Linked DNA regions of Homo sapiens: region 2 is linked to region 1. Evidence: fine-mapped expression QTL. A gene starts in region 1. The other region holds a variant in brackets. All regions are shown on one strand. Distances are between the middles of the regions. Region 1 holds the start of INTS8 (integrator complex subunit 8). Region 2 overlaps INTS8 (integrator complex subunit 8).

What was found. PIP is the estimated chance that this variant, and not a neighbour inherited with it, causes the effect.
Region 2: its variant is fine-mapped to the expression of INTS8 in lung (TOPMed, PIP 0.95).

The regions. Positions count from the first base shown.
Region 1 is chr8:94,811,401-94,827,622 of GRCh38, forward strand. It overlaps INTS8 (integrator complex subunit 8), which reads left to right and starts at 11,887. Exons shown (of 27, transcript NM_017864.4): 1 at 11,887-12,161; 2 at 13,493-13,667; 3 at 15,863-16,003. The coding sequence starts at 12,032. RefSeq lists a silencer at 11,924-12,313 and an enhancer at 12,474-12,533.
Region 2 is chr8:94,864,226-94,872,225 of GRCh38, forward strand. It overlaps INTS8 (integrator complex subunit 8), which reads left to right. Exons shown (of 27, transcript NM_017864.4): 17 at 1,281-1,465; 18 at 1,933-1,966; 19 at 2,915-2,971; 20 at 3,051-3,112; 21 at 7,659-7,777. Among named protein-coding and RNA genes, the nearest start is that of CCNE2, 27 kb to the right of the region's middle. The variant A/G (reference allele first, on the strand shown) is at 4,016.

The DNA of each region.
Region 1 (16,222 bases):
AGGGGAGGTATCACACATTTTTTTTCTTCTTTTTGAGACAGAGTCTCCTTCTGTCACCCAGGCTGGAGTGCAGTGGCGCAATCTCAGCTCACTGCGACCTCTACCACAGCCTCCCGAGTAGCTGGGATTACAGGTATGTGCCACCATGGCTGGCTAATTTTGTATTTTTAATGGAGGTTTCATCACGTTGTTAAGGCTGGACTAGAACTCCTGACCTCAAGTGATTTGCCCACCTTGGCCTCCTAAAGTGCTGGGATTATAGGCATGAGCCACTGCGCCCGGCCAAGTACCACACACTTTTAAACAATCAGATCTCAAACTCACTCAGTATTACAAAGACAACACCAAGATGATGGTGCTAAACCATTCATGAGAAATCCACCCCCATGATCCAGTTACCTCCCACTAGGCCCCTTCTCCAACACTGGGGATTATAATTCAACATGAGATTTAGAAGGGACAACATCCAAACTATAGCAATCACTGTACAGAAGGTTATAAAGGAAGGTAGCAGGCGGTTGCCAGATGAAAGTGGAATGACCTCTGCTCTGGCTATGTCATGGCAATAAGGACACACCTGTTCCTTCCATTAGGTGAATAAGGCCTACATTCGGTTATCCATTCAGCTAGGTGCTGTATGGATAACACAAATACAGATGTATAGACATGGACACTGCTTGGAAGAGCTGTAGAGGTAAAGGAAAACTTCTGCTTCATCCTCTGAAGGTTCACTGAAAATCAGCTAACAGAAGGCAGGTAAATAGAAGAAAAGGCATATAAGTTTATTTGATCATAGCTTTTTGTGACATGAGAGCCTTCAGAATGAAGACTCAAAGATACCGGGGAACCTGTCCATTGTATGCTTAGTTTCAACAAAGTATGAACAGCCATGTACAGATGTAATTGGACAAAAAGAGTATGACTTAACCATAATAGACTGAGTGGGGACACCCTGCAAGGTCTGTCTAGATTCTTCTTGGCTTCTCAGTGCAGCATTCCTTCCTACTGGGGACAGGGCAGCACCCTCTCTGGAATGGGGGTCTCATGACCTATAACCAAACAACATAGCTGGGCACTTTGGGCGGCCGAGGCAGGTGGATCACCTGAGGTCAGGAGTTCGAGACCAGCCTGGCTAACATGGTGAAACCCCATCTCTACTAAAAATACAAAAATTAGATGTGCATGGTGGTGTGCGCCTGTAGTCCCAGCTACTAGGGAGGCTGAGGCAGGAGCATCATTTGAACCTGGGAGGCAGAGGTTGCAGTAAGCCAAGATTGCACCACTGCACTCCAGCCTGGATGACAGAGTGAGACCCCGTCTCAAAAAGCAACAAACAAACAAACAAAACCCCCAAAACCAAGGTAGCTCACATAATTTTTTAATGTCAGTTTTTACACAGAAAAATGGGTGGGAGGGTGAAGTTAGAGTAATATTATTAGGTTTGATGGCTAGCTCCAGGGAAAAGGGGTTCTGGTTTCTATGGCAAGCCTTAGGGGAGAATGATGGTCCAGAGACAGGAGGTCAGGAGAGGGTCAGAGAGAAACTTATGTCTCTGGGGCCTTCATTTTAGGGTATCGTTTTCTGAGCCCCAACAAGCTTTAAGTTTATTGCTGATTATAAAACCTAGACAATAGAGTGAGTCATAAATATCTTAAGAACAGGTTAATAATGCTTTAGGTTAGATAAAGCAAAGATTAAATAAAGGTTTGTAGATCTGGTTTATAGGGAAGCATTTGCATGCATGTAAAAGGCAGGTGCTTTGTGTTTAATAAAAGATTTATTTATTTAGCAAATATTTACTGGGTGCCTGCTGTGTACTAGAGGCTGTACCAGGTAAACGGTATAACCACCATTCTGCTCTCCCCCACCCCCACCTCCAAGATCTTGGAGTCTACCGGGGAAGTGAGACTGTTAAATAGGTAACTGCAAGGAGGTGATATGAATGCCATGACCGGGATGCACAGCTCTATGGCCACATACAACAGGGTGCCTACCTGTCCAAGGAGGTAGTGAAGACCGCAGAGAAAAGTCATGTTTGGTAGGACTCGCTTATTACCTCTTGACAGATCTGTTTTTGGAAGTCCCTAACAAGATGTAATTCAGTTAGGTGTTGCAGGATAGCTTGTACAAAGAATTAGTTACTTCCAATCACAATCCTCAAGTCATATTCCTTCTTCCATACTGGAAAGTATAAGGAAGAGGTGATACCAGCCAGCCGGTATTACCGGTAGATATGGACACTATCCCTAATGGCCACAAGATGGCAGTAGAATCCATCAGCCAGTTTCCCCCACCTCAAAAATATTTATTGAATAAAGTTTTAAATTGTATGTTTATGTCTGAATTGTATTGCATATTTTTTTAAAGAAATACCAAAGAAATTAACCGATTTCAAGTTTTTTGTTTGTTTCGAGAGAGAGTCTGTCTCTGTTGCCCAGGCTGGAGTGCAGCGGCGCGATCTCGGCTCACTGCAACCTCTGCCTCCTGGGTTCAGGCGATTCTCCTGCCTCAGCCTCCCGATTTGCTGGGATTACAGGCGTGCGCCACCTCCCCCAGCTAATTTTTTTATTTTTTAGTAGAAATGAGGTTTCACCATGTTGGCCAGGCTGGTCTCGAACTCCCGACCTTAGGTGATCCACCCGCCTCAGCCTCCCAAAGTGCTGGGATTATAGGCGTGAGCCACCGTGCCCGTCCTAGTTTATTTTTTTATTTATGTGATTTTCAGAAGTCCTTGGTGAAAATAATTTTCATCCTTAGACTGTATAATATCTCTGCTTTTTTATTTTTATTTTTTCACTGTAGCTCATCTAGTTTGCTGTACTTTGTAGAGACCCAGATTTCAGAGGCAACGAGTCTCTGAGCTACCAGAATAACAAGGAAGCAGGGAGGATGTAAAAGAAAACATTTTAAACTATCATGAAGGAGGAGAGCAGGACTAGATACTGTGGTTTATGATCAACATAAAACAGAAACTTCTACTTGATGGTAACTGGTAAACATATACAGCATATGAACCTTGCCAGGGGCCCTGCAAATACATAATTATCACTATAAAAGGGGTTTGCCAGAATTTCACTTATTCTTATGATGTTACTAAATCTGCTACCACCTCATTTGTGAATTTTTCCTTGATCTGAAGCTAAACACTCTAGAACATTTCAGGCCTTGTGACATTTTCCAGGCTGTTTGACTAATTGATAATTAACTACAAGCTTCCTTTCTCATCTTCTCCATGTGGAGATGTCAGCACGCAGTATCCAAGCAGATGGGGACAAGGTGAGGGGTGTGGTTGCACAGGTGGTGTGCCTGGGGTTAGAGTGTGCCCACACTGAGGGGTTACCGGAATGCAGGACTTTCAGTTTTAAAACTGACATAGTCCTGGCCAAGCGGGGATGAGTTGGTGCTATGGTTTTAATGTTTTTGCCTCCTCCAAAATTAATGTGTTGGAAACATAATTATTCTTATGCAACAGTATTGGGAGGTGAGGCCTTTTGGGAGGTGTTTAGGTCGTGAGGACTCTGCCCTCATAAAGTATGAATGCTGCCATAAAAAAGGGCTTGCAGGAGTGGTTCGTTCTCCCTTGTTCTTCTGCCTTTCTGCTGTGTGAGGACACAGCAGTCCTCTCTGTAGGATGCAGCAACAAGGTGACATCTCAGAACCAGAGGCTAAACCTTGATCTTGGACTTCCCAGCCTCTAGAAATGTGAGAAATAAATTTCTGTTCCTTAGAAATTACCCAGTCTCAGGTATTCCATTATAGCAGCACAAAATGGACTAAGAGAGTTGGTCACTCTACCCAGTATACAAGGAAGTAGGGAGCTGTTGTGGAGAGAGGGTGAGAGGAAGTATGGTAAAATATTAACAATGGACACATTTGGGTGAAGGGGATAGGAGAGTTCTTTATACTGTTCTTAAATTTTTTTCATGTATTTACAACTATTTTTAAAAACAAACAAAAAAACCGGCTGGACACAGTGGCCCTCGCCTGTAATCCCAGCACTTTGGGAGGCCGAAGAGGGCGGATGACCTGAGGTTAGGAGCTTGAGACTAGCCTGTCCAACATGGTGAAACCCCATCTCTACTCAAATACAAAAATTAGCTGGGCGTGGTGGTTAGTCCCAGCTACTTGGGAGGCTGAGGCAGGAGAATTGCTTGAACCTGGGAGGCAGAGGTTGCAGTGAGCCGAGATTGTGCCACTGCACTCCAGCCTGGGTGACAGAGCAAGACTCTGTCTTAAAAAAATAATAAATAAGTAAATAAACAAATAGCATACAAATTTGATGGAACTTTTATTATCATTTCACTGAATCTGTAGATAAATTTGAGAATACAGTAATCAGCCTCCCTCTCTAGGAGCAGAATTTTTCTCTCCATTTATTTAGATCCTTCATGTTTTTGAATAACATTTTTATTATTTTCTTCATATAGGTCTTCCACATGCGATCTTGCCCTCATGATCTAATCACTTCCCAAAGGAGGCCCCTCCCTTCTAACCTTGGGGGTTAGTTTGCTTTCCTTTTTCTTTTCTTTTCTTTTCTTTTTTTTTTTTTTTTTTTTGAGATGGAATCTCGCTCTTGTCGCCCAGGCAAAAGTGCAGTGGTGCGATTTCGGCTCACTGCAACGTCCGCCTCCTGGGTTCAAGCGATTCTCATTACTCAGCCTCCCAAGTAGCTGGGATTACAGGCGCCCATGCCCACGCCTGGCTGATAGTTGTATTTTTAGTAGACAGGGTTTCACCATGTTGGCCAGGCTGGTCTTGAACTCCTTACCTCAGGTGATCCGCCCGCCTCGGCCTCCCAAAGTGCTGGGATTACAGGCGTGAGCCACCATGCATGGTCTAGTTTTCAACACATGAATGTGGGGGGAACACAAACATTCAGACCATAGCAGTGGTTCAATTTAACGAAGGTCATATCAGGGACCAAACCCTGGTTCTAACATTTATTCTCTGGGAGACTTTGACGAAGCTACTGATCTACTTATTCTGCTCCTAGATAAGGAGTCTCATTACTGTATTATCAAGTTTATCTATAGATTTGGTGCAATTATAATAAAAGTTCCACCAAATTTGTGTGCTATTGATTTTTTGTTTTTTAAATAGTTGTAAATCCACAGAAAAAAAATTAAGAACAATAACTTCTCTGATCCTCAGCTTCTTCAGCTGTAAGGTGAGCTCATAATTCCTACTTTCTAGGATGTTGAAAGATCAAATGAGAAAACGAGGATATAAAGGCCCTAATTTGGGTCATGGTATGTAACAAATGCTCCATAATAGTTTGTTTCTATGAGCCCATAGAATTTTTCATGGGTTTTGAGGAAATATCAGGGACTTTAAAAGCATCTATATATGGCTGGGCACAGTGGCTTACACCTGTAATTCCAGCACTTTGGGAGGCCAACGTGGGAGGATCACTGGAGCCCAAGAGCTCCAGATCAGCCTGGGTGGGCAACATAGCAAGACCCTATCTCTGCAAAAAAATAAATAAATTAGCTGGGCATGGTGGTATTCATCTGTGGTCCCAGCTACTCAGGAGGCTGAGGCAGAAGGATCACTTGAACCCAGGATGTCAAGGAGGCAGTGAGCTAAATGCCACTGCACTCCAGCCTGGGCAACAGAGAGATACCATCACAAAACAAACAAACAAAAACCAGAACGGGGTGCGGTGGCTCACGTCTGTAATCCCAGCACTTTGGGAGGCTGAGGCGGGTAGATCACCTGAGGTCAGGAGTTCGAGACCAGCCCGGTCGACATAGTGTAACCTGTCTCTACTAAAAATACAAAAATTAGCCAGGCATGGTGGCGTGCCTGTAATCCCAGCTACTCTGGAGGCTGAGGTAGGAGAATCACTTGAACCTGGGAGGTGGAGGTTGCAGCGAGCCAAGAGCGCACCATTGCACTCCAGCCTGGGCAACAGAGCAAGACTCTGTCTCAAAAAAAAAAAATACAGATAAAGTTGAAGTACCTGTGACCCCCCTCCCCCACTCCTTCCCCCCATTCACCTCTCCTCTCCCCTTCTCTAACCCACCCCTGTTCTATCCTCCTTCCCTCTTCTCTTCAGAGCCAAACACAGTAGGATTTTGATGTGCATGCCTCAATAAAATAGTTTCTCAGATTTTTTAGTCTCAGGGCCCTGTTAGACCAAAAAATTATTAAGCACTTAAAAGAGTGTTTGTTTATATTTACCATATTAAAAATTAACACTGAGAAGTTTTAAAAATATTTAATTTATTTAAATTAAAATAAAATAATCATATAAAAATAAAAATAATCCTATTACATGCTGACAAATACAATTTTATATAAAATAACTATTTTCATTTTAAAAACTAGAAGAGTGGCATTGCTCACATAGATGAGTAGTTAAAAAAAGAAGTATTTTATATCTTTTCGGATAATTATGGACTTTCTTCACCAAAACCTGAGAAAGTGGTTGTTTCTTAAAGATTAGCTGCAATTTTAAATCTGAAATCATACCAATTAACTTTTCAAATTCCGTTCCATTACAATTCATCAGTCTGTCTTGAAATTTTTTGTTTTGTTTTGTTTTGAGATGGAGTCTTGCTCTGTCGCCCAGGCTGGAGTACAGTGATGCGATTTCTGCTCACTGCAACCTCTGCCTCCCGGGTTCAAGCTATTCTCCTGCTTCAGACTCCTGAGTAGCTAGGATTACAGGCACCTGCCACCATGCCAGCTAATTTTTGTATTTTTAATAGAGACAGGGTTTGATCACGTTGGCCAGGCTGGTCCAAACTCCTGACCTCGTCATCCTCCCACCTCGGCCTCCCAAAGTGCTGGGATTACAGGCATGAGCCACCGTGCCCAGCTGAAATTTTTTATTTATTTACTTTTAAGAGGCAGGGTCTCGCTCTGTCACCCAGACTGGAGTACAGTGGCATGATCATAGCTCGCTGCAGTCTCCAACTCCTGGTTTCAAGTGATCATCCTGCCCCTGCCTCCCAAAGTGTTGGGATTACAGGCATGAGCCACTGTGCTCGGCTTGTCTTGGAATTTAAATAAATCTTTTAGCCATATATTAGGAAAATATTGATTGATTTGTCAAGTTGTGATGATCATCTGAAAGTTGACACATTTAAATATACATTTGTTAATATCGCCATTGGTGTCATCAGAAAAGTCTTGTCAAGTATTGGGAAGCTGCCAAGTTTACAGTTTTCTAAAATTCTAATTTTACTTAAAAAGTTGAATGTTGGCCAGGAGCGGTGGCTCATGTCTGTAATCCCAGCACTTTGGGAGGCCAAGGTGGGAGGATCACTTGAGGTCAGGAGTTCAAGACCAGTCTGGCCAACATGGTGAAACCCCATCTCTACTAAAAATAGAAAAATTAGCCAGGTGTGGTGGTGGCAGTGCCTGTAATCCCAGCTATTCGGGAGGCTGAGGCAGGAGAATCGCTTGAACCTGAGAGGTGGAGGTTGCAGTGAGCGGTGATAGCACCATTGCACTCCAGCCTGGGCAGCAAGAGCAAAACTCCATCTCAAAAAAAAAAAAAAAAAATTGAATGTTATTATTCGCCACAAATGGTGTTAGTTGTTTTCCATAAAGTGACATGACAGGCTCACTTTGTTCAAGAAAATGTCTGCTAAATACCCAAGTCTGAATGACCACAGTCTGTTCTCATTCTTTCTTTCTTTTCTTTTTTTTTTTTTTTTTGAGACAGGGTCTCACTCTGTCACCCACCTGAGTGCAGTGGTGCAATCTCGGCTCACTGTAGCCTCATCCTCTTGGGCTCAAGCAATCCTCCCACCTCAGTTTCCCACATAGCCAGGACTACAGACGCACACCACCATCCCAGCCTTATTTTTTATTTTGATTTTTTTGTAGAGACAGAAGTCTCACTATGCTGCCCAGATACGTCTTGAATTCCTGGACTCTCCACCTCAGCCTCCCAAAGTGCTGGGATTACAGGCGTGAGCCACTGCACTCGGCCAGTTTCTGTTGTTTTAAACCACAAAGTTTGTGGTAATTTGTTACAGCAGCCACTTGAAACAGATACAATGAGTATGTCACATTTTATTTGTCTATTCACCAGGTTATAGACCTTGGTTTCTACTTTTAGGCTACTGTAGATACTGCTGTTCTAAACATTCAAGTCTTTGTGTGGGTACATTTTCTCCTTTCTCTTGGATACATACCTAGAAGGGGAATTGCTGAGTCATCTGGTAAGCCTATTTTTAACATTTTTTTTTTTTTGAGACAGAGTTTCATTCTTGTCGCCTAAGCTGGAGTGCAATGGCGCGATCTCGGCTCACCGCAACCTCTGCCTCCCGGGTTCAAGCGATTCTCCTGCCTCAGCCTCCTGAGTAGCTGGGATTACAGGCATGTGCCACCAAGCCCAGCTAATTTTGTATTTTTTAGTAGAGATGGGGTTTCTCCATGTTGGTCAGGCTGGTCTCGAACTCCTGACCTCAGGTGATCCGCCCGCCTCGGCCTCCCAAAGTGCTGGGATTACAGGCGTGACCCACCGTGCCCGGCCTATTTTTAACATTTTGAGAAACTGCCAAACTGGTTTCAAAAGTGGCTGTAGCATTTTACATTTGACATGTATGGAGGTTCTAATTTCATATCATCACCAATACTTATTTTTGTCTTTTTGATCATAGCCATTTTAGTGGGTGTGAAGTGGTATTTCACACAGTTTTGTTTTGCTTTATTTATTTATGTATTTATTTGAGACAAAGTCTCGCTCTGTCACCCAGCCCAGAGTGCAGTGGCATAATCATAGCTCACTGCAGCCTGCTTCCCAGGCTCAAGCCATCCTCCCACCTCAGTCTCCCAGGGTAGCTGGGACCACAGGCATGTATCGCCATGCCTGGCTAATTTTTGTGTTTTTTGTAGAGATGGGGTCTCACGTTGTTGCCCAGGCTAGTGATTTGCGTTTCTTTTCTTTTCTTTCCTTTTTTTTTTTTTTTTTGAGACAGTCTCACTCTGTCACCCAGGCTGGAGTGCAGTGGCATGATCTCAGCTCATTGCAACCTCCACCTCCTGGGTTCAAGTGATTCTCTGTCTCAGCCTCCCGAGTAGCTGGGATTACAGACGCATCACCACCATGCCCGGCTAATTTTTGTATTTTTAGTAAAGACAGGGTTTCACCATCTTGGCCAGGCTGGTCTTGAACTCCTGACCTTGTGATCCACCCACCTCGGCCTCCTAAAGTGATGAAATCACAGGCGTGAGCCACCGCACCTGGCCGATGATTTGTGTTTCTTTAACGACTAATGATATTGAGCATTTTCATGTGCATATTGCCCATTTGTAATATCTTCTTTGGAGAATGATCAATTCAAATCCTTTTTTTTTTTTTTTTTTTTTTGTTTTGAGATGGAGTCTCGCTCTGTCGGAGTCTCGCTCTGTTGCCTAGGCTGGAGTGCAGTGGCACAATCTCAGCTTACTGCAACCTCTGCCTCGTGGGTTCAAGCAATTCTCCTGCCTCAGCCTCTCAAGTAGCTGGGATTACAGGTGCCCGCCACCATGCCAGGCTAATTTTTGTATTTTTAGTAGAGATGAGGTTTCACCATGTTGGCCAGGCTGGTCTTGAACTCCTGACCTCAGGTGATCCACCCACCTCGGCCTCCCAAAGTGCTGGGATTACAGGCGTGAGCCACCGTGCCTGGCCAATTCAAATCCTTTACTCACTGTGTTGTTGCTGGGTTGTAAGAGTTCTTTACATATTCTAGATGTAAGTCCCTTATCAGACACATGATTTGCAAATATTTTCTTCTAGTCTTTGGGTTGTCATTCCACTTTCCTGATGGTATCTTTCCAAGTGTATTATTTTTTAAATCAAAATTTTAAATATTTCTTTTGCCTCTGTTGTTTCTGAGAGCCGAAGACATAGCAAGTTGAAGAAGCCTTGGCTTTTTGACATTCTGGGACACCTTTCAAGAACACTGAACCCACACCAGGATTGTCACACACTGACAGGGAAAGATGTGTCACTCCAGACCCAGGCAAGCAAACTTGGCCACAGCTGGGATATGTGTCTTGCATCAAAGCAGAAGCAACTGGTAGTTTTGAGGGTCTTCTGACAGACACCCTCCAAACATACTGCTCAGAAGTGAGGTAGGAGGTGAGATGCGACTCTGGAGTCAGGGTTTGGACACCGGACCAAATTCAGGGATGGGGCTGAAGCAGCTTTCCATGAGACATGCTCAACAGTGTGCCATGTCGGTTTACCATTGCCATGGCAACACCTGGGCATTGCCACCCCATTCTATGGTAATGACCCGATGACCCAGAAGTTACTACCTTTTTCCTAGAAATTTCTGCATAAACTTCCCCTTAATCTGCATGCAATTAAAAGTGGGTGTAAATATGCCTGCAGAACCTCCCTGAGCTGGTATTCTCAGCGCACTGCCTGTGGGTTAGCCCTGCTCTGCAGGGGCAGTCACAGAGCTGTAACACTGCCACTTCAGTAAAGCTGTTCTCTTCTACCACTGGTTCACACTTGAATTCTTTCCTGGACAAAGCAAAGAACTCTCTGGGGTGAAGTTCCAATTTGGGGTCACCTGCCCTGCATTAGAGGGACAAGAGTCCCTGGCTGGAAGCTTGAGTTCATTAGACTCCTCCAATGTTGATGAAGTCTTAAGTTATGACTCCCTCTAAGAGATGGTCTCTAAGTTTAATAAACTTCAAGATCTCTGTCAACCTTCAAGTATTCAATTACCCACTCTGAAAAGGGGAGTTCAGTGCTGTAACACTTTTATGGCAAGACATTTTTGAGTCTAAATAAAACACCTTGGGACTTGAAATATATAATGTTGTTATTGTATTAGATGGTAGTGGAATAATGAACTCTTCCTTAATTAAAACTTATTTTTACATATGTAATACAAATGTCAAAATGTCAAGTTAATCTGTACTGATTTCCTTTTTTTTCTTTCTTTTTTTTTTTCTCGTTGTGAGACAGGGTCTCACTCTGTTGCCCAGGCTGGAGTGTAGCGGCACAATCACAGCTCACTGCAACCTCAATCTCTTAGGCTTAGGTGATCCTCCCGCCTCAGCTTCCTGAGTAGCTGGGACCACAGGTGTGTGTCACCATACCCGGCTACTTAAAAAAAATTTTTTTTTGAGACAGAGTTTCGCTCTGTTGCCCAGGCTGGAGTGCAATGGAGCGATCTCGGTTCACTGCAACCTCCGCCTCGCGGGTTCAAGCGATTCTCCTGCCACAGCCTCCTGAGCAGCTGGGATTACAGGCGTCCGCCACCAAGCCCGGCTAATTTTTGTATTTTTAGTAGAGACGGGGTTTCATCATATTGGTCAGGCTGGCCTTGTATTCACGATCTATGAATGCATCTTTTTTCAGTTTTAATCGTTAATGAAAAATACAAGAACATCACAGAACGGAGGTAAATGTATAGGGTTAACAGCGCCTCTAGCGGGGATATCGAAAGGATCAACTAGGCTCTAAGTATCGGGAGCTAGCAGCAAGGGCTGCTCACCGTATGCTGCCATCCGTCCAGGAAGCGAGTGGGAAGCTGGTGTTCTCGGCAGGACGGCGGGAGCATCTGAGGAGAGGACCCAGGTGCGAGGAAATCTCAGAAATGGGAACGGGGAAATTGAAAGCACAGGAGATAAACTTTGCTTGGGTCACAACTAGAACCCTTCGCTTCGCCTTTACGAAAATATTGAGGCCCGTTGCAACCCTAGATGAGGTTGTCTCATTTTCTCGCTGGAGAACTGTCAGGGAACACGGAAAACCCACCCGCGACCCGGCTTCATGCGGCGCCGTCTCCTATGGCAACCGGGAGGAGGCGTGGTTCGAAGGTTAGTCACGCCCCTTTCCTTCCAACCCGAACAACGATTGGTCCGAAGGCGCGGCGGTGGCGCGGGGAGGCGGATCCAGGACCGCAGCTCCGGCTGGCCCGCGCCGCCATTTTGGATTGTGTGAGTTTCCGGGACGTTCGGAGGGTGGCCTCTCTCCCACCGGGTTCCGCATACCCCAGGCACCGGCCCGCATCCAAGTGTCAGGTTGGAGCCGGGAAGCGGCCCTGGTGGTAGCGGCGGCGGGGGCAGGATGAGCGCGGAGGCGGCGGACCGGGAGGCGGCCACCTCCAGCCGGCCCTGCACCCCGCCGCAGACCTGCTGGTTTGAGTTTCTGCTGGAGGAGTCACTGTTGGAGAAACATCTGCGCAAGCCCTGCCCGGGTGAGCGCGGCGCCTGCACCTGGGGAGCGGGACCCGGCCACCGGCGCTGTCCGCCCAGCTTCCCTCCGCTCCCCGCCTTCTCGGTCACCGAAGCTGCGGCCTGGGAGGCGCGCACAGGAGCCCAGCTCCGGCCGGGCTCCTCGCTTCCCTTAAACATGCCCGGGTGGAGGGTCAAAGAAAAGCTCGAAACAAAGGCTCTCCTACCCCCGGAGGGGAGGGCTTGGTGCTGTCATCCTAAACCCTTTGGTCCTTTTTACGATTTACCTTTTTACTGTTGGGGTTTTAGAGGCTGCGAGGCGGGTCTTGTGGTTGCTTGGGTCGGGGAGGCTGACCAGACGCCTCCTTCAACCCCAAGCTGAATAAATTCAGGGAGCTGGGGAGAAACCAGCTGTTGGGTGTTGATCGTGACGCTAGTTATTATCTTAGGTTTTATTTAAACATTTTTTTCTTCAGTGAGGGAATTTTATTGACTCTTATTCCAAAGTTGGGCTGTAAGTTAAAAGAAAATCTTTGAAAGTAGGAACTGCTGCACATTTGCAAGATGGCTTTGTATAGTGATGATAATGATTAATAGCCCAGTTAAATGGGTGTGATTGATGGGGGAGGAGGAAAACTCCAGGCATTCTCAAAAAAGGTATTGGCACAAAAAGGTAAGTTCCTCGGATAGCATTTCTCTAAATTCAAATCTAGATATGGCTTGTTCAGTCTCAGACTGGCCTTCACTGATAGAGACCACTGTGTAAGAAGTTAGTGTACTTAGGCAGTTTTGGCACCTGTATAATGCCCTTAATTCATTCCTTTTGAAAGATAATTTGTTGAGTGCTTTCCGGGTGCCATGCACTGTGCTTAATTGCTCACATCCGTTACCTCCTTTAATTTAATCTTCAAAATGATCCTCTATTTTGCATTGGAAGAAGCAGGTACGGAGAGGTCACTTGATGGAGGTCCCCCTAATTAAGTGTCAAAATAATAGTTCTAATATTTATATCTCATTCTTCTAATTGGCAGTGGTTATTTGCAGAACCAGAAATCTATGACTGTTATGTTCTTCCCCGTAAGGTGCTTTTTTTTGCTTTCTTCCACTCTAATCTGTTACCCTTCCTCCTTACCACTCTTCCGCATCTCCTTTAACCCCCAGGCACACTTCTTACATACGTATTCCTTAGTCATTTTAACAGCGCAGCTGTTTGGATTCCTTTTGTGGCAAAAAAAAAACCCAAACTCCCCCCCCCCCCACCCACCCCCCCAAAAAAACCAAACCAATAGTGAATCCTTTTGTATCTACATAATTAAAACTTAAATTTAAGAATTTATTTTCTTTTAAACCCTAGATCCTGCACCAGTTCAACTTATAGTTCAGTTTTTGGAACAGGCTTCCAAACCTTCAGTTAATGAACAAAACCAAGTTCAACCTCCGCCTGATAACAAGAGAAATCGTATTTTAAAACTACTTGCTCTTAAAGTTGCTGCACATTTGAAGTGGGACTTAGACATATTAGAGAAAAGGTATCCAAGATTTCAGTGAAATTTCATTTGAAGTGCTATTTAGATATCTTGGTTTATTTCTATATATGCTTTTATGATATCGGCTCTTAAAAATTACGTGCTGGGCGCCGTGGCTCACGCCTATAATAATCCCGGCACTTTGGGGGCCAAGGCTGGCAGATTACTTGAGGTCAGGAGTTTGAGACCAGCCTGGCCATCATGGTGAAACCTCGTCTCTAGCCGGGCATGGTGGCGGGCGCCTGTAATTTCAGCTACTTGGGAGGCTGAGGCACGAGAATCGCTTGAACCCGGGAGGCTGAGGTTGCAGTGAGCCGAGATGGCGCTACTGCACTCCAGCCTGGGCGATAGAGTAAGACTCGGAAAAAAAAAAAAAATAATAAAATAAATATTATATATTCTTGATAAAATATGCAAGTATAACATTACTTTTGATGTGGTAACTAGAGAAAATCCACACCTAAACTGTTGTAAATTTCTCAAGTGACTTTTACATATCTGAAGAAAATGAATAAAAATTAATGATAGATGTTGTGTAATATGAATGATTTGCTGTTGAATAATTGAGTTGATTTTACTGGTCATAAATCACTATCTCCTATTAAAACAGCTGATTAGAGTCAGTGCTTATTTGCTTAAATATAAATAATTTCAAGCCTTTTATTAGAAAATGATTTATTATCATCCCCTTCTCATCACAATTTAAAACATCCCTTATAGGAAGTTGGGAAAAATTTAAAAAATAGGAAATAATTGGGGAGGAGAGGGGTTTTTTTTGACATTTTCATGTAATTTTTTTTCTTTGTTCTCCATAGGCTTAAAGTTGTGATCATACCCTATATACTGTTTTTATTCCTGGTTTTTTCACCTAGCTGTATCATGAGCATTTCCCCTTTTTTATTTTTTGGAGAGAATTCCGTTGTATGGGTAATTTATTAACTGTTCCTTAATTGACAGTCATTTAGTTTATTTCTAGTTTTTCACTGATATAAATCACAGGGCCTTAAATATCTTTGCCCATAAAATAAGTTTATCTGTATTTTGAGTTGTATTCTTAGGATAGCTCCTTAAATTGCTGGATCGTGCAGTATAAACATTGTTAAGACACATGAATATTGCTGGATTGCATTCCAAAAGAGTTTATATTCTCACCAGTAGTATTCAAAAACCCTCTTTTTAACCACATTCTTCAGCATTAAATATTAGAATTTTTAAAGTGAATTTTTTTTTTTTTTGAGACGGAGTCTCGCTCTGTCACCCAGGCTGGAGTGCAGTGGCGCGATATTCGCTCACTGCAAGCTCCGCCTCCTGGGTTGACGCCATTCTCCTGCCTCAGCCTCCCGAGTAGCTGGGACTGCAGGCGCCCGCCACCATAAAGTGTATTTTTAATCTGAGCAGGGGAAGCTATACGTTATAGACTGAAGAGACATCAACAGATAGCAATGGGTACAAAGAAGTATGACATATATGAGGCAGCTGGAAAATTGAACACTGATAGGCTGTTTGACAGTAAGCAAGTCTAAGTTTTTTAGATGTGAAATTAATATTGTGATTATGTTAAGAGTTAATTTTTTGAAATATATTCTGAAATATTTATGGACGAAATGATTTGGGAAGTGGGGAAGAATAGAGATGAAGTAAGATTGGCCATCAGGTGATAATTGCTAGATGATGGTACATAGGGGTTCATTATATCCTGTCTACTTTTATGTTTTACGTTTTTTCATAATAAAAAGTTTTAAAAATCTTTTCGCATTTAAGCCGGGCACGGTGGCTCACGCCTGTAATCCCAGCACTGTGGGAGGCTGAGGCAGGCAGATCACAAGGTCAGGAGATGGAGACCATCCTGGCTAACATGGTGAAACCCCGTCTCTACTAAAAACACAAAAAATTAGCTGGGCATGGTGGCGGGCGCCTGTAATCCCAGCTACTCAGGAGGCTCAGGCAGGAGAATGGCATGAACCCGGGAGGCGGAGCTTGCAGTGAGCCAAGATTGTGCCACTGCACTCCAGCCTGGGCGACAGAGCGAGACTCTGTCTCAAAAAAAAGAAAAAAAAACTTTTTCACATTTGATAGCTAAACCCAGAGATGTGGTTCCTTAACAATGTAGGTATTTTCAGCGAGGATATGGAATTTTGTATGTATTTTGTGTTTCTTTCACAATTAATGTGCAAACATGTACGTTTTGCTTCTTCAAGTTTGTCTGTTCCAGTATTGAATATGCTACTAAATGAACTACTCTGCATCAGTAAAGTTCCTCCTGGGACAAAGCATGTAGACATGGATCTGGCCACTTTACCTCCGACCACTGCCATGGCTGTACTTCTCTATAATAGATGGTAAATGTTTTCATAAACTCAGAAGGCGTTGGGCAACCTCTGTTTTATTGCACTGTGGCTTTCAAGGATATTCTTTTAATGGACCCATTCTGCTGCAGGGATTTTTCAAATCTGGGGAACTGTGAGTCTAATGGTGGAGAAAATTTGTGACTGCATAGATGAAAAGCAATCTGATAAAAATGTGGATGACTTATGCAGGATTTACCATGTGTCAATTAA
Region 2 (8,000 bases), 49 kb after region 1:
CACCAATTTTTGTCCTTGTCACAATCTTGCCACCTCCTTAAAAAAGCCGCCTTAAGCAGTAGGGACCCCTAGGTCCATTTTAAGTAGAAACCAGGGGTTCCTGATGGATTTGAAATTATCCTTGCTACTGCACCCTCTACAAGAGCGATGGAGTATAAAAGTTAATATGAACAAGGGTAAAGGGGCCCAGTTCTGAATTTGGCCAGATGCTGTGGCTCAAGCCTGTAATCTCAGCACTTTGGGAGGCCGAGGCGGATAGATCACTTGAGGCCAGGAGTTCGAGACCAGCCTGGCCAACATGGTGAAACCCCGTCTCTACTAAAAATACAGAAATTAGCCGGGCATGGTGACACATGCCTGTAATTCCAGCTACTCAGGAGGCTGAGGCACAAAAATCGTTTGAGCCTGGGAGGCGGAGGTTGCAGTGAGCCAAGATTATACCACTGCATTCCAGCCTGGGTGCAGAGCAAGACCCTGCCTCCAAAAAGAAAAGAAAATAAAAGAAATTCTGAATTTATTGTAAGTCAATCTTTCCCTGTCTTTTGCTTTTAGCTTTCCCACTCTTTATTTCTGGGTCCTCCCTACATCCTAGGTCATTGAGGCTGCCTTTATTCATACCAGTCACTTTGTGTAACCTGTCCTGCCTTAATTCTACCTCCTCAGAAGAGCAGTAGCTCCATTCCCAGTTGCTACCAATTTTCTTAGAGAAAAATTGCTTTAAATCTATATCCCTTAATTCTGCCAACTTCAGTTTCCTTATTCCTTTCCTTATTTTTTTCGTTGAAACAATTTTTTTTTTTAGTGATTAAAAGTTGTATGTGTGTGTATTTGCACGTGGGAGAGAGAGAGATCTGAGCACTATTTTAACCTCACCCCCTGGGCTTTTACCACAGTTAACATCTTGGTGTATGCCTTCCATTACACTTTTTTTTCCCTATGTAACGTGGGATCATACTATGTGTATTTAGCAACTCGTTTTTTTTTCCACTTAATAAATCACCTATCTCTTTGCGTTGTCTCATTTTCGTTTTCATTAGACTATAACTGTTCAGAAACAAAGTTCGTATGCTCGAACCAGAGGATCTTTCTCAGATTCAGATCTGTCAGTACGCAATGAGCCCTAAATTCCTCAAAGGTTGTACAGAATGCACAGCATAAAATAACTGTGCTTAGTATGTTTGGGCAGTCATTCCATCTTTCCTCCAGTGTGCCTTGATAATAGAACTAATGTGCACGACATTACAGATTATCTTTTGTGTATTTTGTTTTTCATGTTATAGCTTGGACAGCTTTTAGCAGCTACATGCAAAGAACTTCCAGGCCCTAAAGAAAGTAGACGGACTGCCAAAGACCTTTGGGAAGTTGTTGTTCAAATCTGTAGTGTGTCCAGTCAGCACAAACGAGGAAATGATGGCAGAGTTAGTTTAATAAAACAGAGGGAATCTACGTTAGGTATCATGTATCGGTATGTATTGGTACGTTTCTATTAGTTGTGTTTGAGTTCTTAATATTTATCCTATTTATACTATTAACCTATTAAAGGTTGATTTCAAGAACATCAGCTTTTATTCTGTATATCATAAAGTTGGACAATCTTACGAGTTCTGTAGTACTCACCTGTGATGAACCTGTCTGCCTTGGCCACCTTTGGAAAGATCTTTTGTTTATATGTCATTTTAAGAAACTATTAATCATTTAATCAACTGGAATTCAAAATCAGTAGTATTTAAGGTTGGATAGTATTGAAGACTTCACATGTGATTAAAACAGGGAAGAAATGTTATTAGGTTAGTATAACAGTAGAATATTACATTCCTTTTCACACTTGCAGAATTGGAGCATTAAGAATAAACCTTCACCTATAATTTACTTTCTTGATTTTATTTTTTATTTCTAATATTAAATGTGTATTCAAAAATTTTTGTTTTGTAGGAGTGAACTGCTTTCTTTTATCAAAAAATTACGAGTAAGTTTTATTAAAAATTGCTCTAATTACTATTGCTGGTTTTTGTAGAATATGACTAAAAATTATTGGGTACTTCAAATACTGACTAAATTATTATTTGTTTTTTAATTTTTTTTTAAGGGACAGGGTCTTGATCTGTCACCCAAGCTGGAGTGCTGAGGTGTGATTGTAACTCACTGCGTCTTCTAATTCTTGAGGTTAAGCAGTCCTCCTGCCTCAGCTTTCTGAGGAACTGGGACTACAGGCACATGTAACCATGCCCAGCTAATTTTTTGTAGAGATGAGGTCTCCCCTTGTTGCCCAGGCTAGTTTCTAACTCCTGGTCTCAAATTATCATCCCTTCTTGGCCCCTCACAGTGCTGGGATTACAGGTGTTAGCCACCTTGCCTGGCCTCTGGTTAAATTATTAAAGTGACCTGTTAATGTGCTTTTCTTCAGTGATCATTATTGGTGGGTGGGATATTCTGACTGGAAAAGTTTGTATTGCATTTACTTTACCATGTTTTAGTGAACGGAGCAGGTATTTCTTTAAATTGTAAAGAAGTCTTCATAATAGGGGCTAGATGTGTGAAGCCTGGCTTTAATTTTTGCTTAGTAGGATCAATGTCATATTTACTTATTGGACGTAACCTAGGTTTCACTCTTTGAACATTATTTTAAGGGATAAAAAGTTACTTGAGAGTCATGTGAGGAGTTGAGCGTGGAGATAGCACCATAAGCCAAACATTTATGCTAATTTTATGTAAATTATGTGCTATGGTCCACGCCCCGCCCCCACATGCGATTAAAAAGTTGATTTTTAGTGTGCTAAAGCACATGCTAAAACAGATGCTACATTTTCAAAAGGCAAGGGTCTTTTAGAATGCTTGATGTCTGTGAGGTTGACAGGAGCAATATTAAATAAATATACATACACTGTTTAAGGATTCTGTGTTTTCTTTCTCATAGGAACCACTCGTTTTGACTATTATTTTATCACTCTTTGTGAAACTTCACAATGTTCGGGTAAGTATTTCATAATTTCATTTAGAAAAATTTAAAAGAAATTTCTTTGTAAATCACACCTTTTTTTTTCTTTTTAAAGGAGGACATTGTGAATGATATTACAGCTGAACACATTTCTATTTGGCCATCTTCCATTCCCAAGTAAGTAGTGGTATAGCTTTTATTTTATTAATTGAGTTATGTATTTGGAAACCATTCTGACTAGTATAGATACCCTTAGATAATTTTATTAAAGGGCCAGAAATCTAAGATTCTACAGTCTTTGTGTTTCTCTATTATGATAATGATAATTATCTTCCTGTAAATTGTGGATAAGGCATAACCCTTTTTTTTTTTTTTTTTTTTGAGGCAGAGTCTCACTCTGTTGCCCAGGCTGGAATGCAGTGGTACAATCTCTGCTCACTGCAATCTCTGCCTCTTGGGCTCAAGCAATTCTCATGCCTCAGCCTCCCAAATAGCTGGGATTACAGGCACCCACCACCACGCCTGGCTAATTTTTGTATTTTTAGTAGACACATGGTTTTGCCATGTTGGCCAGGCTGGTCTCAAACTCCTGACCTCAAGTGATCTGCCCACCTCAGCCTCCCAAAGTGCTGGGATTACAGGCAGGAGCTACCACACCTGGCCCAGCATAACTCTTAAGTAGGAGTTAAGATTTATCAGCCTTGGAACAGAAGATATAAGTGGTCCTGATTTTCAGTAGAATTGGAAAATTGGGGCCAATGAAAGAATGACTTTCTATCAGGTTTCCAGCATCTTATTTCTTTTACAAGTATCTATTTGAAAGTGATTTCTTTTTTCATAATTTTTTGTATGTCTCATCTAATGCTGCAGTTATCAAAAGGCTCCCAATCTCTTTTAGTTGCTGTAGGAACTAAACTAAACTTCTTTAATTACTTTGAGAAATATTCCCTTTTGCATGCACTACCTGAGAATCACAGTAAGATGATGGGGACTTTTTTTAGGGGAGGAAAAAGGGTTCATTTACTTGAAGAAATCATGTACATTTTTCTTTTCCCACACATAGCACTTCTCATGTAGGGG[A/G]ATCAACTTGTTTCCTCACAGATGTTTTTCCTCCCTGCCCTCCCTCTCAGTCTTCTTAGTTTGTGCTTGTCCAAGCCTTATGTTATTACTCTTAGTGGCATCTTTGAAGAAGAAAAGATTTCGGTACATAGACAAGCTGATAATAGAATAATAGTAAAGAATTTGTTTCCGTCTCAATCTTAGAGATTGGAAAAGCTCTCTGTCTCATCCAGGGATTTGGAGGGTCAGAGCAGGTGAGTGCCCCTGCCCTCCACTTACTGAGGCTTGTTTCCCAAGGGAGCACCATGCTGCATGAAGCACATGTGCATGCTCCACAGCATTTGAACTGCAGAGTCCGTCATCCTGTGTTCCTGATTTTTATATAAAATCTGTTGTTAGATACCAATTCAAGAATCAGGTAGAGACAGTTTTTCTTTTCTTTTCTTTTCTCTTTTCTTTTCTTTTTTTTTAGACATCACGTTGCTTTGTCGCCCAGGCTGGAGTGCAGTGGTGAGGTCTCAGCTCACTGCAACCTACGCCTGCAAGGTTCAAGCGATTCTCATGCCTCAGCCTGCCAAGTATCTGGGATTACAGGTGCATGCCACCACCCCCAGCTATTTATTTGTATTTTTAGTAGAGACAGGGTTTCACCCTGTTTCCCAGGCTGGTCTTGAACCCCTAGCCTCTAGAGATCTGCCCACCTTGGCCTCCTAGAGCTCTGGAATTATAGGCGTGAGCCACCATGCCCACCCAGTTTTGGATTTTTTTTTTTTTTTTTTTGAGGCAGAGTTTTGCTTTTGTTGCCCAGGCTGGAGTGCAGTGGCGCAATCTCGGCTCTCCACAACCTCTGCCTCCCTGGTTCAAGCAATTCTCCTGCCTCAGGCTCCCGAGTACCTGGGATTACAAGCATGTGCCACCACACTGGGTAAATTTTGTATTTTTAGTAGAGACAGGTTTCTTCATGTTGGTCAGGCTGGTCCCAAACTCCTGACCTCAGGTGATCTGCACACCTCAGCCTCCCAAAGTGCTGGGATTAACAGGCGTGAGCCACCACGGCCAGCCCAGTTTTGCATTTTTTAATTGGTGGTTTCAGTGGTTGTGTTTTTGTTTTTTGGGGGTTTTTTTGAGACAAAGTCTCACTCTGTTACCCAAGCTGGAGTGCAATGGTACGATCTCGGCTTACTGCAACCTCCACCTTCCAGGTTTGAGCAATTACTACAGGCGTGTGCCACCACACCTGGCTAATTTTTATTTTTATTTATTTATTTACTTATTTTTATTTTTATTTTTTGAGACGGAGTCTTGCTCTGTTGCCCAGGCTGGAGTGCAGTGGCATGATCTCAGCTCACTGCAACCTCCGCCTCCCGGGTTCAAGCAATTCTCCTGCCTCAGCCTCCTGAGTAGCTGGTGTTACAGGCACGTGCCACCAAACACAGCTAATTTTTGTATTTTTAGTAGAGATGAGGTTTCACCATGTTGGTCAGGCTGGTCTCAAACTCCTGACCTTGTGATCTGCCTACCTCGGCCTCCCAAAGTGCTGGGATTACAGGCATGAGCCACTGCGCCCCACCTAATGGTTGTGTTTTTTAGCCTCTGTAGTATTACCTCTGTGGCCTAAGTTTAGACTGTAATGATTGGTTTCCAGCGTGTTTGTAAATGAGGCAAAAGAATTGTTTACCCTAGGGGCTCTGGGTCAGACTCACGGGGTTTGAGCCCCAGCCTTTTCACTTAGAGGTATATGACCTTCAATAAGTTGGTTTCTGTGCCATGTTCCCCATCTCTAAAATAGTACCTGCCTAAGAATTGTGAGGATGAAATAATATATTTTTATTTATTTATTTTTTTTTTTTGAGATGGAGTCTTGCTATGTCACCCAGGCTGGAGTGCAGTAGCGCGATCTTGGCTCACTGCAAGCTCTGCCTCCCGGGTTCACGCCATTCTCCTGCCTCAGCCTCCCAAGTAGCTGGGGCTACAGGCGCCCACCACCATGCCTGGCTAATTTTTTGTATTTTTAGTAGAGACGGGGTTTCACCATGTTAGCCAGGATGATGTTGATCTCCTGACCTCGTGATCCACCTGCCTCGGCCTCCCAAAGTACTGGTATTACAGGCGTGAGCCACCGCACCTGGCCTGAAATAATACATTTTCTAAGCTAGATATTTAGAATAAAGACTGGTACATAGTAGGCTTAACTATTATCTTCATGATGAAAGTACTTTAAATTGACCCAGAGAAAACAAAATATGACTAAATGTTTGACTAGAGAAAAGTATTTCTCCTGAGTGGGACTCTTTATTGATTCCAAGAATAGTGGGAATGGCACTGGATTGAAGATTACGTTTTTAAAACCAACTACTTGATATATAGAATTCTTACACTTGTAACATTTTGTAAATGTCTGTAAAATTGTAAGCCAATCTAACTTATATAACTATTTAAATTTAAATAAATAATGGACTATTTGCTAATAATCCCACAATTCATTTTCCACTGTACTGGGCTCTGGTGAGTTAGGGTAAACTGTAACCCCTCAGGGCAACAGAAGTACCTTGTCTAAATTCACCTTGTAAATGATAGAGCCATGCGTCTGAATCCACAGCCTGTATTCTCTACCCTTGTGCTTTACTGCTCTTAGGAGGTGGGAGCAGTTAGCAGTTTTTTGGGTGCCGGCCTCGCTTTTCTCTTCACAGTTCAATCTTCTGACTCTGTACCTGAAGGTGTCCACATTTAGCCAGGCTCACAGTACTCTTTTCTTGATTCTTGGGGGCTGCCAGATGCACTGATATGATATACTTGGACATCCAGCCCCTGACCCCATTAGGCCCCTGAAGCATCTCGAGGGGAGTCAGTAACTCTTGCAAGAAGGCTTAAGGTGGATGTAAGGCCACAAGGCAACATTGTCAGTGTCTGAGTCCTTGATTTTTATGTAACTTCTCATAGATAACAGAACTTAAAAATCATTTGGGGGCCAGGTGTGGTGGCTCAGGACTGTAATCCCCAGCACCGGGAGGCTGAGATGGGCAGATTGGCTGAGGCCAGGAGTTTGAGACCAGCCTGGCCAACATGGTGAAACCCCGTCTCTACTAAAAATACAAAAAAAAAAAAAAAATTAGCTGGGTGTGGTGGTGAGCGCCTGTAATCCCAGCTACTCAGGAGGCCGAGGCAGAGGAATCACTTGAACCCGGGAGGCGGAGGTTGCAGTGAGCTGAGATCGTGCCACCGCACTCCAACCTGGGCGACAGAGTGAGACTCCGTCTCAAAAAAAAAAAAATGATAATAATAATTTGGGGAAATTTTATGAGTCTCTTTTGTTGCCCATAAATTGTGCTAAGCAGAGGTAAGGGTTTTATCTCACTACTTCTGTATGCTTTAAACATTTGTAAAAGAGGCAAATACACTTTCTTGGTGCAGCCTTGTCTACCTTTGACATTCTGAAGAAAAGAGAACAAAAATCAGATTGTTTTCAACCCCTCATAAAAAGCCCATCACACTTTCTTAGACTTAGTTGTGTTGATAGTTCTTATAATACATTTACTCCTAGTATTTAGCATTATATTTATGTTCACCTAAATCTTGGCTGAGTTTTTGTTTTTAATAAATACATGCATGGAATTTAAAGTTGACTTTTAAAATAGAGATTAATGTTGTGTGTCTTTCCTTTTAGCCTCCAGTCTGTGGACTTTGAAGCTGTGGCAATCACAGTGAAAGAGCTAGTTCGATATACACTCAGTATAAATCCAAATAACCATTCTTGGTTAATTATCCAGGCAGATATTTACTTTGGTAAGTGAGATGTTTAGTTGCTTTGTGTTTTGTTTTTATAGCACTTTTTGAAGTGAAAGTAAATATATAACCTATTTTATTTCAATACTTAAGTTTTGTTGAGATTTACTTGTCTTTAGTAAAATTAAAGCAGTAAAAGTATTTGTACTTTTTTTTAGTGTAGAGCCTTTGGTTCAGATGCTTTTAACTTTACGTTGACTACCTTTATTCTCTTTTTCAAAAA